Linked DNA regions of Homo sapiens: regions 1 and 3 are each reported to be linked to region 2. Evidence: microRNA targets listed by miRTarBase, many of them from high-throughput screens and not tested one by one. Region 2 holds a microRNA gene; each other region holds the end of a gene's coding sequence. Distances are between the middles of the regions.

What was found. Region 2 holds the annotated microRNA hsa-miR-1295a (UUAGGCCGCAGAUCUGGGUGA, at 1,067-1,087, shown strand). A microRNA usually pairs through its seed, bases 2 to 8, with sites in the 3' UTR of a target mRNA and lowers its output. Matches are read on the target gene's strand: a 7mer-m8 pairs with bases 2 to 8, a 7mer-A1 pairs with bases 2 to 7 and ends in A, and an 8mer does both.
Region 1: miRTarBase lists GJB2 as a target of hsa-miR-1295a. Seed matches in the 3' UTR shown: 7mer-A1 at 477-483.
Region 3: miRTarBase lists NT5C1A as a target of hsa-miR-1295a. Seed matches in the 3' UTR shown: 7mer-A1 at 836-842.

What each region holds. Positions count from the first base shown.
Region 1 is chr13:20,185,175-20,189,174 of GRCh38, reverse strand. GJB2 (gap junction protein beta 2) reads left to right here. Exons shown (of 2, transcript NM_004004.6): 2 at 1-1,705. The coding sequence ends at 274. LOC107984553 (a long non-coding RNA gene) reads left to right here and starts at 2,984. Exons shown (of 3, transcript XR_001749956.2): 1 at 2,984-3,723.
Region 2 is chr1:171,098,674-171,102,824 of GRCh38, reverse strand. It overlaps MIR1295A (microRNA 1295a), which reads left to right and starts at 1,019; the gene lies at 1,019-1,097. All of the region lies in intron 2 of FMO3 (flavin containing dimethylaniline monoxygenase 3), which reads right to left. MIR1295B (microRNA 1295b) reads right to left here and starts at 1,086; the gene lies at 1,027-1,086.
Region 3 is chr1:39,655,411-39,659,410 of GRCh38, forward strand. It overlaps NT5C1A (5'-nucleotidase, cytosolic IA), which reads right to left. Exons shown (of 6, transcript NM_032526.3): 6 at 1-4,000. The coding sequence ends at 3,711. Among named protein-coding and RNA genes, the nearest start is that of NT5C1A, 15 kb to the right of the region's middle. RefSeq lists enhancers at 2,646-2,715, 2,667-2,961.

The sequences.
Region 1 (4,000 bases), not on the chromosome of region 2:
CACAAGCAGCATCTTCTTCCGGGTCATCTTCGAAGCCGCCTTCATGTACGTCTTCTATGTCATGTACGACGGCTTCTCCATGCAGCGGCTGGTGAAGTGCAACGCCTGGCCTTGTCCCAACACTGTGGACTGCTTTGTGTCCCGGCCCACGGAGAAGACTGTCTTCACAGTGTTCATGATTGCAGTGTCTGGAATTTGCATCCTGCTGAATGTCACTGAATTGTGTTATTTGCTAATTAGATATTGTTCTGGGAAGTCAAAAAAGCCAGTTTAACGCATTGCCCAGTTGTTAGATTAAGAAATAGACAGCATGAGAGGGATGAGGCAACCCGTGCTCAGCTGTCAAGGCTCAGTCGCTAGCATTTCCCAACACAAAGATTCTGACCTTAAATGCAACCATTTGAAACCCCTGTAGGCCTCAGGTGAAACTCCAGATGCCACAATGGAGCTCTGCTCCCCTAAAGCCTCAAAACAAAGGCCTAATTCTATGCCTGTCTTAATTTTCTTTCACTTAAGTTAGTTCCACTGAGACCCCAGGCTGTTAGGGGTTATTGGTGTAAGGTACTTTCATATTTTAAACAGAGGATATCGGCATTTGTTTCTTTCTCTGAGGACAAGAGAAAAAAGCCAGGTTCCACAGAGGACACAGAGAAGGTTTGGGTGTCCTCCTGGGGTTCTTTTTGCCAACTTTCCCCACGTTAAAGGTGAACATTGGTTCTTTCATTTGCTTTGGAAGTTTTAATCTCTAACAGTGGACAAAGTTACCAGTGCCTTAAACTCTGTTACACTTTTTGGAAGTGAAAACTTTGTAGTATGATAGGTTATTTTGATGTAAAGATGTTCTGGATACCATTATATGTTCCCCCTGTTTCAGAGGCTCAGATTGTAATATGTAAATGGTATGTCATTCGCTACTATGATTTAATTTGAAATATGGTCTTTTGGTTATGAATACTTTGCAGCACAGCTGAGAGGCTGTCTGTTGTATTCATTGTGGTCATAGCACCTAACAACATTGTAGCCTCAATCGAGTGAGACAGACTAGAAGTTCCTAGTGATGGCTTATGATAGCAAATGGCCTCATGTCAAATATTTAGATGTAATTTTGTGTAAGAAATACAGACTGGATGTACCACCAACTACTACCTGTAATGACAGGCCTGTCCAACACATCTCCCTTTTCCATGACTGTGGTAGCCAGCATCGGAAAGAACGCTGATTTAAAGAGGTCGCTTGGGAATTTTATTGACACAGTACCATTTAATGGGGAGGACAAAATGGGGCAGGGGAGGGAGAAGTTTCTGTCGTTAAAAACAGATTTGGAAAGACTGGACTCTAAAGTCTGTTGATTAAAGATGAGCTTTGTCTACTTCAAAAGTTTGTTTGCTTACCCCTTCAGCCTCCAATTTTTTAAGTGAAAATATAGCTAATAACATGTGAAAAGAATAGAAGCTAAGGTTTAGATAAATATTGAGCAGATCTATAGGAAGATTGAACCTGAATATTGCCATTATGCTTGACATGGTTTCCAAAAAATGGTACTCCACATATTTCAGTGAGGGTAAGTATTTTCCTGTTGTCAAGAATAGCATTGTAAAAGCATTTTGTAATAATAAAGAATAGCTTTAATGATATGCTTGTAACTAAAATAATTTTGTAATGTATCAAATACATTTAAAACATTAAAATATAATCTCTATAATAATTTAAAATCTAATATGGTTTTAATAGAACAGCAAATTTTAATTTCATCTATCACTTTTTATATAAATACATTAATGTTTTATATTTCATAACACCAATGGGTAAGTTGCCAGAGTGTCTGACCCCATTCTGCCCCAGTTACAGAAAAGCTTCTGTCACCAGAAAGTTTGGTGGGGAAGGAAGGGAGGAAGATGATTTCTACCTAACCCCGTGCCCACCTCTACCAGGTTTTTGAGGCATATCAGTCTATGGACAATGTGGTGTTTGGTCTGGAAACGTACCTTGGTGAATGCTGAGTTGGCTGGACATGACCCGTTTAGCTCCTGGATGAATCCCAGAAGTGGACCTTCAAAATGTTACTCATAGCATGACCTTGGCTCACTGCAACCTCTGCCTCCCAGGCTCAAGCGATCCTCCCACCTCAGCGTCCCAAGTAGCTGGGACCACTGGAGTGTGCCACCACACTCCACTAATTTTTTCATTTTTTGTAGAAACGAGGTCCCACTATATTGCCCAGTCTGGTCTCGAACTCCTGGGCTGAAGGGATCCCCCTGCCTCAGTCTCCTAAAGTGCAAGGATTACAGGCATGGGCCACCGCACCTGGCCTGAAACTGCTTTTTATTCCTCAGTGCCCACTTCCATGGGAAATAAGCCTGCCAGGTCAGCCTGTCCCCATGGGAGTGACTGCCTGCTACCCCCACAGGCTTGCCCGGCCCTCGTGAGCCTCTCCCAGAGACACCACCAACAGTTCTGTTCTTTCATGGTACAAGATTTCCATCCAAGGATTTCAAAGCATTTCACACATCAATAATTAGAAGTATTTTCATAGAGGACCATACACTTTTAAAATGGATTTCAAAGAACAAAAACCAGTCAACTATCACCCAGGTAATAGAAAATGGGAAATGGTTTCTACCTGACTTCCAAAATGCTCTGCACATAGACTGTGAAAATAGGATTTTTTAAGCTGGGTGCAGAGGCTTATACCTATAATCCCAACACTTTGGGAGGCTGAGACGAGAGGATCACTTGAGCCCAGGAGTTCAAAACCAGCCTGGGCAATATAGGGAGACATTGTTTCTATAAAAAATAAAAATGTTAGCCAGGCAGGCGTGGTAACATGTGCCTGTAGTCTCAGCTACTCAGGAGGCTGAGGTGGGAAGATTGCTTGAACCTGGGAGGTCCATGCTGCAGTGAGCTGAGATTGTGCCACTGCACTCCAGCCTAGGCGACAGCAAGATCCTGTCCCAAACAACAACAACATCAAAAAACACAGAACTTTTAAAATAAGTACATTCACTTCTACAAGCTATGTAGATTATTACTCTCAAGCTATTAAAAGACCAAGCCAAAATAATTATGGGCTACTCTCGACCACTTGTAGGAATGGATAGAGAGGTCTGGTCACATGCCTGGAAATTAGAGCTTGAGCTCTGAAAATGATAATCCTGACTATATCTCAAAGCATCAGTCTGCACTTTGTATGGAGCAAGAAAAAGCCTTGTGGAAGCGGCCTCCCACCCAGCCGAGCCCTCGGCGTGGACAAGCTCTGCTTTTTATGAGCAGTGGGTGCAGCCTCGCTGCTCCCTCCTCCTGTCAAAAGACAGTCACAGCTGGGGTGAGCAGATCGGGCCCACTTGGGAGGCCCCAAGGAATATGCTGCAGGGGTCGGGCCTGAGCCACCCCCACGGGTTGGTCTTTGACAACTAGAGAGCAGCTGAGAGGTGGGTAAAAGCTCACTCACTTACCCTGACCTCAGTGTCCTCATCTTAAAATGGGTTTCCTGAATCTTTCCCCGGCTTAGTGGCAATGAAATAAGATAATTTATGTAAACGTTCTCCACATAGTAAAGCACTAAGTAACATATGACTGTCATCTGTTTTCCACTAGACAGATCCCAACCTGGAAGAGTGACAGATGGTATTTCAGATACAAGTGACTCAAGCAAAGCTTGATAAACTGGGGGCTGGAAAAAAATGCACATTTACACAAAGCCTGGAGTAACTGCAGCACAGGCAGGTGAGTCTAGCCACATAAGCCGGGAGAGGAATGGCTGGGGGCAAATATAGCAGCAAAAAAGGATAAGGTGGTGACAGCTATGCGACTCTGTAATTAAAGAAAGGTCAACAGAGTAACGAAGAAGGCCATTGACTCATCTGGTCAGGGTCTCTACACTTTCCATACATCTCACCAAATGCTTTTCCCATATCACCTCATTTGCACCTCGCAGCAGTGCTCTGAAGTCCTAGGCTGTTAGTGTTATTCTTGCTGAGGGCAACAGGAAGGCACTGCTCAG
Region 2 (4,151 bases):
CTAATAAAGCCTTAGAGGAAATGTTAAGTGATGATGAATAAAGAAAAAGAACATTGAAGAAAGAATGATCAGTAATGAGAAGTTTAGGATATTGTGTTGTGGTTCTTTAGCCACACACTGAAATAAACTGGGAGCTTTAAAAAACACACTGAGCATTAGGTCCCACTCTCAGAGAATTTGATTTAATTGACAGCAAGTTTTAAAAGCTCTTCAGGTAATTTTAAGGTGCAGCCAAGTTTGTCAGTCACAATGTAGAGTTCAACAAATGGAAGCTCATGACCAACAGGCTACAGTTACTGTGGAAGAGCTTACCATAGGACACATCTGTTACAGCTGTGAGCTCTGCAAAGCAAGCTGTTGAATGAATAAAAGGCATTAAGTTAAAAAAAAATACTGGTTGGAGCATGATTAGGAAGAGGTGGAGCCTTGGTTTAGCTCTGTTGAAGCATCAAGGTACTTATATCTCAAGTTTCATGATGAAAGATCAGATTGTAGATCTCTATGTGTAGTTGCTAGTTCATAGTGGAAAGTACTGAGCACTAGAAACTTCTAATTAGAGCTCATCTAACTGAAAGTTGTCAGGGCTCCCAGAACATGAAATTTTAGTATAATATTGGAATATTACAATCACGTCAAAAGCCAATGTGGCTGCAGTTTCATTATTGACAAATAATTAATTGGCAGATTAGTTGCCATGTTCATTTCAGAAAGCAGCGTGTTCTTTAAATAGGACATGAGTTTTCTGCTGCTCACATGGTTTGTTGACTCTGCTATAGGCATGTGGGATGGGGAAGTGCAAAAATTTGTAGCTTTCTGTGAGTTGGGTAAGTTTAAAGAGATGATAATCAGCATAAAGAGAGAAGAAACATTAAAGAAAAAAATTGATACATAGTCCAGAAAAAAATCAGAGGAAGTTAAAAAAGGGAGGTATTCCCAGAAGAAAGCCACTATTCATAAAACTTCATGCAAAAATTCATATGATTTACTGATTTATTGTTTGGGGAGCTCCTGAGAAAAGAGGACATTTTGCCCAGATCCGTGGCCTATTCAGAAATGTGGCCTGTGATTAGGCCGCAGATCTGGGTGAAATGTCCTCCTTCTGTGACCAAAGAAGGTGAGGGAAATACATCATCGTGGCTCTAGATCAGGGTTAGAAGTCAGAACTAGAAGGGCATAGAAAGTGCTGTAGTAAACAGCTCCAACAGTTTCAACTATATGCACCCTTAGTGTTAGCTAAGTTTTAACCAATGTTTGGATCTCTCTGAAATTTAAAAAAAGTTAAGATAATGTAAAATGATGATGTTAGAAACCAAAGGGAAGGCAAATACAAAATTAGAACAATTTTATAACAATCTTATAATGTGAATACTAAGCCTATTGCTGCAGACTTCTAGTGATCTGAGAAACACTGCTGTTTGCTCCATCATTTGCAATCTATAAGCCCCCTCACAGTAGTAAAATAGGAAACGCTGAAAAACCAAAGGTATTAGTTTCTTGTGGCTGCTGTAATAAATTACCACAAAGTTAATGGCTTAAAATAATAGCAATTGATTCACAGTTCTAGAAGTCAGCAGTCGGGAATCACTATCAGTAGGCTGAAAACGAAGTGTGACAGTACCATGTTCATTTTCAGAGGCTCCAGGAGAGAATCCATTCCTTGCCGCTTCTGGCTTCTGGTGGATGCTGGCATTTCTTATTTTTTTCAGTGGCAAGACCCCTCTTGTACGCCTTCACTCATGGCTCCTCTGGCCATCATCAAAGATAGAGCATAGCATCTTCAAATTTCTCTCTTTCTGTTGAGGTCATCACATCACCTTCTCTCTTCTCTTTGTGTTAAATCTCCCTCTGCCTCTCTCTTTTAACGATGCATTCATTATAGCGTTTGGGGCTCACCCACATAATGCAGAAAAATCTCTCCATCTTAAGATTTTTAACTTAATTATATTTGCAAATACCCTTTTCTCTTGTAAGTAAGATAACATTTACAGGTTCCAGGAATTTGGATGTGATATCTTTGAGGAGGGGCATTGTTAAATTGTTCAGCCTATTACAGGCCATCCTCTGGTTCCCAAGGATTCACATCCATCCCATCTGCAAAATACATTAACCCAATCCCAACATCCTCAAAGTCTCAACCCATAGCAGCATGAAATCAAGTCTCAACTCTCATTTATATATTTTCAATTCAAAAGTCCAAAATCTCATCATCATATAAATTATCTAAATCAGGTATAAATGAGACTCTGGATATGGACCAGGATGAGGCAAAATTTCTATCTGTGAACCTGTGAAACTAGAAAACAAGTTATCTTCTTCCAAAATACAATGGTGGGACAAGCATGGGTAACCGTTATCGACATTCCCATTTAACCGGGGAGGAAAAAGGAGGAAAGAAAAGAATCACTAATCCCAAGCAATTTTGAAATCCAGTAGGACAAATTCCTTCAGGCTTGAAGGCTTTGGCTCAGGCCTCTGCCCTCAGGGCCTGAGGCTCTACCCTCTGGGCTATCCTTTCTTTTTCTTGAAGGGTAGCACATGTTGCAGTTCAGTTTTATCAACCTATGCTGCCAGGTTCAAATTTTAAAGTCTTCCTCGAGCAGCAAGAAAAGACAAATTAGCTGTCTTTGGCTGTGTTCCTCTCAATAGCCATATCAGCAGTGCGTTCTATCTTCAGCAACGTCTTGCAAACTAAATTTGAGTATGAGGCTTTGGTTAAGATCACTGTGTATAAGATATGGCTGGCCAGGAGTGGTGGCTCATGCCTATAATTCCAGCACTTTGGGAGGCCGAGGCGGGTGTATCACCTGATGTCAGGAGTTCGAGACCAGCCTGGCCAACATGGCGAAACCCCATCTCTACTAAAAATACAAAAATTAGCGGGGCGTGATGGCACACACCTGTAATCCCAACTATTCGGGAGGCTGAGGCAGGAGAATCCCTTGATCCCAGGAGGTGGAGGTTGTAGTGAGCTCAGATTGTGCCATTGCACTCCAGCCTGGGCAACAAGAGAGAAACTCTGTCTAAAAAAAAAGAAGAAGAAAAAAGAAAAAAAAAAAAAAAAAAAAGAAAGACATGGTCAGCTCGATAGGCCACTTGGTGAAATGGCAACCAGCAATTTACAAAGGAGTTAAGAATAGACTAGAGAGAAAGGCAAGCTTGAATTGGGATCTTTTCTCCACCATTATCAGCTGTATGATTTTTTTTCTTTTCTTTTAAAGCTTCAAATTCATTTGTAAAAGGAAAAAAAATATACCTAGCTTATAGGATTACTATAAATATTTAATTAAATAGAAAAAGTCATGTGTCATATAGAAAGTGCTTGATAAAATAGCCCTAAGTTTGGCCACAAAGAAACAAAAATAACAACAACCAAAAAGCCCTAAGAATCACCAGTGTGTTAATCTGAAGCCCTGTCAACACATTTTAATAACATACAGTAGGCTCCACAACATTGTATAAGATGTTGGGGGGTTTCACACCACACCTAATCCAAAATTGACCACATAGTTGGAAGTAAAGCACTCCTCAGCAAATGTAAAAGAACAGAAATTATAACAAACTGTCTCTCAGACCACAGTGCAATCAAACTAGAACTCAGGATTAAGAAACTCATTCAAAACCGCTCAACTACGTGGAAACTGAACAACCTTCTCCTGAATGACTACTGGGTACATAATGAAATGAAGGCGGAAATAAAGATGTTCTTTGAAACCAACGAGAACAAAGACACAGCATACCAGAATCTCTGGGACACATTTAAAGCAGTGTGTAGAGGGAAATTGATAGCACTAAATGCCCACAAGAGAAAGCAGGAAAGATCTAAAATTGACACCCTAACATCACAATTAAAAGAACTAGAGAAGATATATCTCAAAATAATAAGAGCTGTTTATGACAAACCCACAGCCAATATCATACTGAATGGGCAAAAACTGGAGGCATTCCCTCTGAAAACTGGCACAAGACAGGGATGCCCTCTCACACCACTCCTATTCAACATAGTGTTGGAAGTTCTGGCCAGGGAAATCAGGCAGGAGAAAGAAATAAAGCATGTTCAATTAGGAAAAGAGGAAGTCAAATTGTCCTTGTTTGCAGATGACATGATTGTATATCTAGAAAACCCCATCGTCTCAGCCCAAAATCTCCTTAAG
Region 3 (4,000 bases), 130 Mb from region 2:
AATTATTTGTAGGTGTTTAGGAAGCTATAATAAAAGCATGCACTCAAATGTATTCCAGCATTTCACCATGCAGGAAATCAACATATTAACTGTCAGGTAAGTAAACTCCTTTAGTGAAGACCTCAGAATGGAGCTTCTCTGGCTATCTCCATGCATATGTATGAGCAGTATGACAAAATGGTTGAAAACCTGGGTCCTAGAATCAGATGGACATGAGTTTGAGTCCCAGCACTGCCACTTACTAGCTCTATGGCTTTGGACAAGTTACTTTGCCTCCCTAAACCAGCATGGCCAGGACACCACAAAACAGAGTAGACACTGGCCATAGTGCCGCTGCAGCCTCCTAGAGGCTGCATTGTGGGAAAATGGAGCGCTCACAGTGGAAAGGTCAGCTGAGGCCACGAGGAGACATTCAGGGGACTCAGCGCAGCATTATCTACCAACTGCTATGGAGGTATTTCAAGTTTTAGTCATCAGTTTGGCTGTACTGGTGCACACCAATTGAGTGTCATTATAATGCCAAATCCATCTTGGCTTTGAACTTCTTGCTAGTTTCTATTTTTTTCTGGCACATTCTGATATATCCCCACTACTCTGATTGGGCTCTCAGATAGGAGAGGGGGATGTTTTGCAACTGGCTGAGCAGTCTCAGTGCTTAGTAACAGGGCTTCCATTTTTCTGCTAAGCAGCAGTCCCATTGGCTCTGGGATTTTGCTGGCAGGCATCTCCTGGAACCAGTGTTCTGCAGGGCTTGTTGGGGAAGTGGTGCTCTCAGCTAAAGGGGTCCAGTGTTTCAGAAGCCGTGGCTGCTCCACCTCAGTGCTGCATTCCCTGGTTAGGCCTGGGACTTTGGTGTTCACCTGGCTTTTTAATTTACTGGTGAACAACACTCAATGTTCCTCATCCCTGGGCACCTCCTCACCTCTAAGACAATCAGAAGGCCCGTGTAACTGCTGCCTAAGACTGCCCCTCAGATTTCTGGCTTTTTATTCCAGTGACTGAAAGCTTTTTTCCAGGCCTGAGATGCTCATTTGTGATTTCAATAATAGAATTTAGACTCTTAGTGTTTCTCCATTGCCCAGGGCTGTCTGTGTCTATTAATGATGGCTCCAGTGAAATCCATGGCTTTTACTGCACCTTATCTTTCTGCTTCCAGCATCATATTTTCCTGCTTCCTGAGAGACATGGAATCATCAGTGGTGTTCATCACCAGGCCCTGGGGGCAAGACCACACAGGTCCCAGAATCCCTGCAGTTTTTCTTAATTAGGTGACATCTGGTGCCGTCCCCAGTGCACAGGTCCACCCTGGTCAGTCAGCCTGTTGCCATGCTGTGAGCCTGGGCTGTGCCCGGCCTTGTAGGCTTCTTGCAGTCACTGGTTCTGTGAGCCTTGGAGGCTCTTCCACGGGGGTGATTCTGACCCCTGGGAGTGAGAAGGAGAGGGCCTTTCTGCAGTTCAGCCAAGAATAAAGGAGACTCAGGGCTGAGCTCCCTCCTTCACTTCTTTTTTGTTTCCTTGAGGTTGTTCTTGGCCCTCACAGTACCTCTGTCTAGGCTTGGAGCTCTGGAAGTAGACACAACCCGGGTCTTCTGCCCCAAGGCCTCCTCTGTTAGCCAGAAGGATCCTGGCTGTGCAGTGGAAATGACCTCGTGCAAAGACATTATCATATGCCCTTCCAGGGGCAATAATGCCAGTGTCCCCTGATAAAGCAGTCACTGTGGGTATCTGTCCCAGTCACTCCACACAGCCATACCCTTCCTCCCTGGGACCAGCCTCATGGAGACCTCTGACAATGACAGTAAAAACTCAGCCCAGCCTTTCTCTTCTGGCCCAAATCGTTGCTCATTTGAGAACCGTCTCTGCCTTCTCACTTTGTTCTCCTTCCTGGAATATCTTTCTGCATCTCTTACCCTGCCCCACACTGCACAGAACCTGTGCCCTTTCAGACCCTGAGCTGAGTCCCCAGAAGGACAAAGATCAAAAACCCCAGGGTGTTCTCTTCCCCTATTTCCTACCACCACATCTCCAGGCTTCTGCCCCTCTCATGATACTTTTGGTTTTCTTTACAAAGTGCTTGCTCATGACTAGGATTCCTCCTAGAAGCCTGGCAATCAGTCCACACACAGATGTCTGCTCACCCCTTCTGTCTCCCTGGGGACCAGCCATTGGTGCTTCCACCCTCCCTCTGGAGAGAGCCAGGGATGCTCAGCAAAGGAGGAGGCTGACTCATCAAGCGGTGAGAGTTCTCCTCTGAAAGTGGTGAAGAAGGGGCCGCAGGGGCTCTTGCAAATGTGGAGGATCCGCTGATGCATTTCATGGGGAGGTTATCTCATCCTGGAAGCCCTTGCTCAGCATCCACTGATGGAGAGCTCATTACCTCCAAAGGCAGCTCTGACTGGCTTTCCACTAACAATCCCATAGCTGGAGAATTTTGCTAGTGCACATTTCAGCTCCTTCCTCTCCAAGCATCACTGTCTCAGTACCTTCTGTCTCACACCAGACCTCCTGACACTTCCCACTTCACCCCAGGCAGCACCTCACCCTGGGGCTCAGCCTGGACAACCGCCTACCTCAGCCACTGCACTTTCTTCCCCTAGAATTGAGGCCACAACAGTAGACACCCATGCTCTGTCCCGTTCCCCACCAGCAGAGCTGCTCAACAGGATGCAATAACTGGAGGAATGAGGGTGGTGGAAGTGAGGGTCTTGGCAGGCAAGAGCAACTGAACTTCGGCTCAAAGCAAGAGCAAAGGAAACACTGAGCAGGCAGCTACTAATGCTTCTCCCGGGAAGAGCCTGCAGTGCCCCCTGCTGGCTGGAGGAGAGTTTGTATGCGTGTCCAATTCACTCCCCTTGCTTCCTGGGCTGAGCCCTGATGACCATTCAGGTTAGAGAATCACATGAGCAGATAGGTCATCTTGTCCAGTGGTTTCAAAATGTGTAAAATTATAGATAGAGTTGCTGGGGGCGATTTTGCATTTTGTCCATTTGAGAAAGGCCTCTGAGCTGAGGGGACACATGGGGGCTGAAATCCAGCCTCTATCCTGCTAACTAAGCTGTGTACCCCACTATGGGACTGGGTCAGGCCAGAGGAAGGGATGTCTTTTTGTTCTTCATTCACCTAGACAGTGTCCTTTTGTAATTTGCACAAAGGTGCCATACATACCAGCAGCAGCACTGACACAGAATGCTTCCTTCTAAGAGGGCGATCTTAAAGAACCAAGCTTCTTTGGCTAAAAGGGAGCTTGAAAACTGCCCAAAAGATGGGGAAACTGGGGGCCATGAAGGGGAGGGATTACTCAAAGTCATGCAGTTAATACCAGGACAGAGCTTAGAAGCCAGATCCACTCTCTCCCATAGCAGTGTTGTTTACACCACATTGAGCTAGTTTTCATCCTAAGTCACTATTGAGAAATCCTGGCTTCTCTGACCCTCCCCCTCTCAGACCCATTAACTTCCCCCCTGAAATCCAGCTACTCTGCACAGTCCTACTCTCCTACTCAGGATCATGGCACAGAATTTGCCCCAAAGGAGGGATGTTGAGAATGCCAGACCCGTCTGCATAATTTCCTACAAGTACATCACTCATAGGGATGAGGGCAGACAGGCAGAAGGACAGAACAGTGAGAAACTAGAGGGATCTACCAGAGGAGGTGTCGAAGTATGTCAGGGAGCCTGGAGCAATGTGGATCAGTAAAGCCGGTGGTTCAGCTACTGTGCAGATGGGGCCTGCTTTGCAGGTGCAGTCCGCCGGGGTGTCTGTGCCACACCATAAGGCACATGGGCGGCCACAGTGCCCATCTCCTGAGCCCCAGCCACATGGAACATCTGGTCATCAAAGAAGATGTGTGGGCGGATCTTCTCAAGGAGAGGGCCCTTGGGCGCTCCAGCAAGGAACAAGGCTTCATCTGTCTCCAGGCCCCAGCTGCGCAGGGTCTTGAGAGCCCGGGCCCCGGAACTGGCTGCACTGCGTGCTGTCACCAAGTAGGTACGAATTGGGC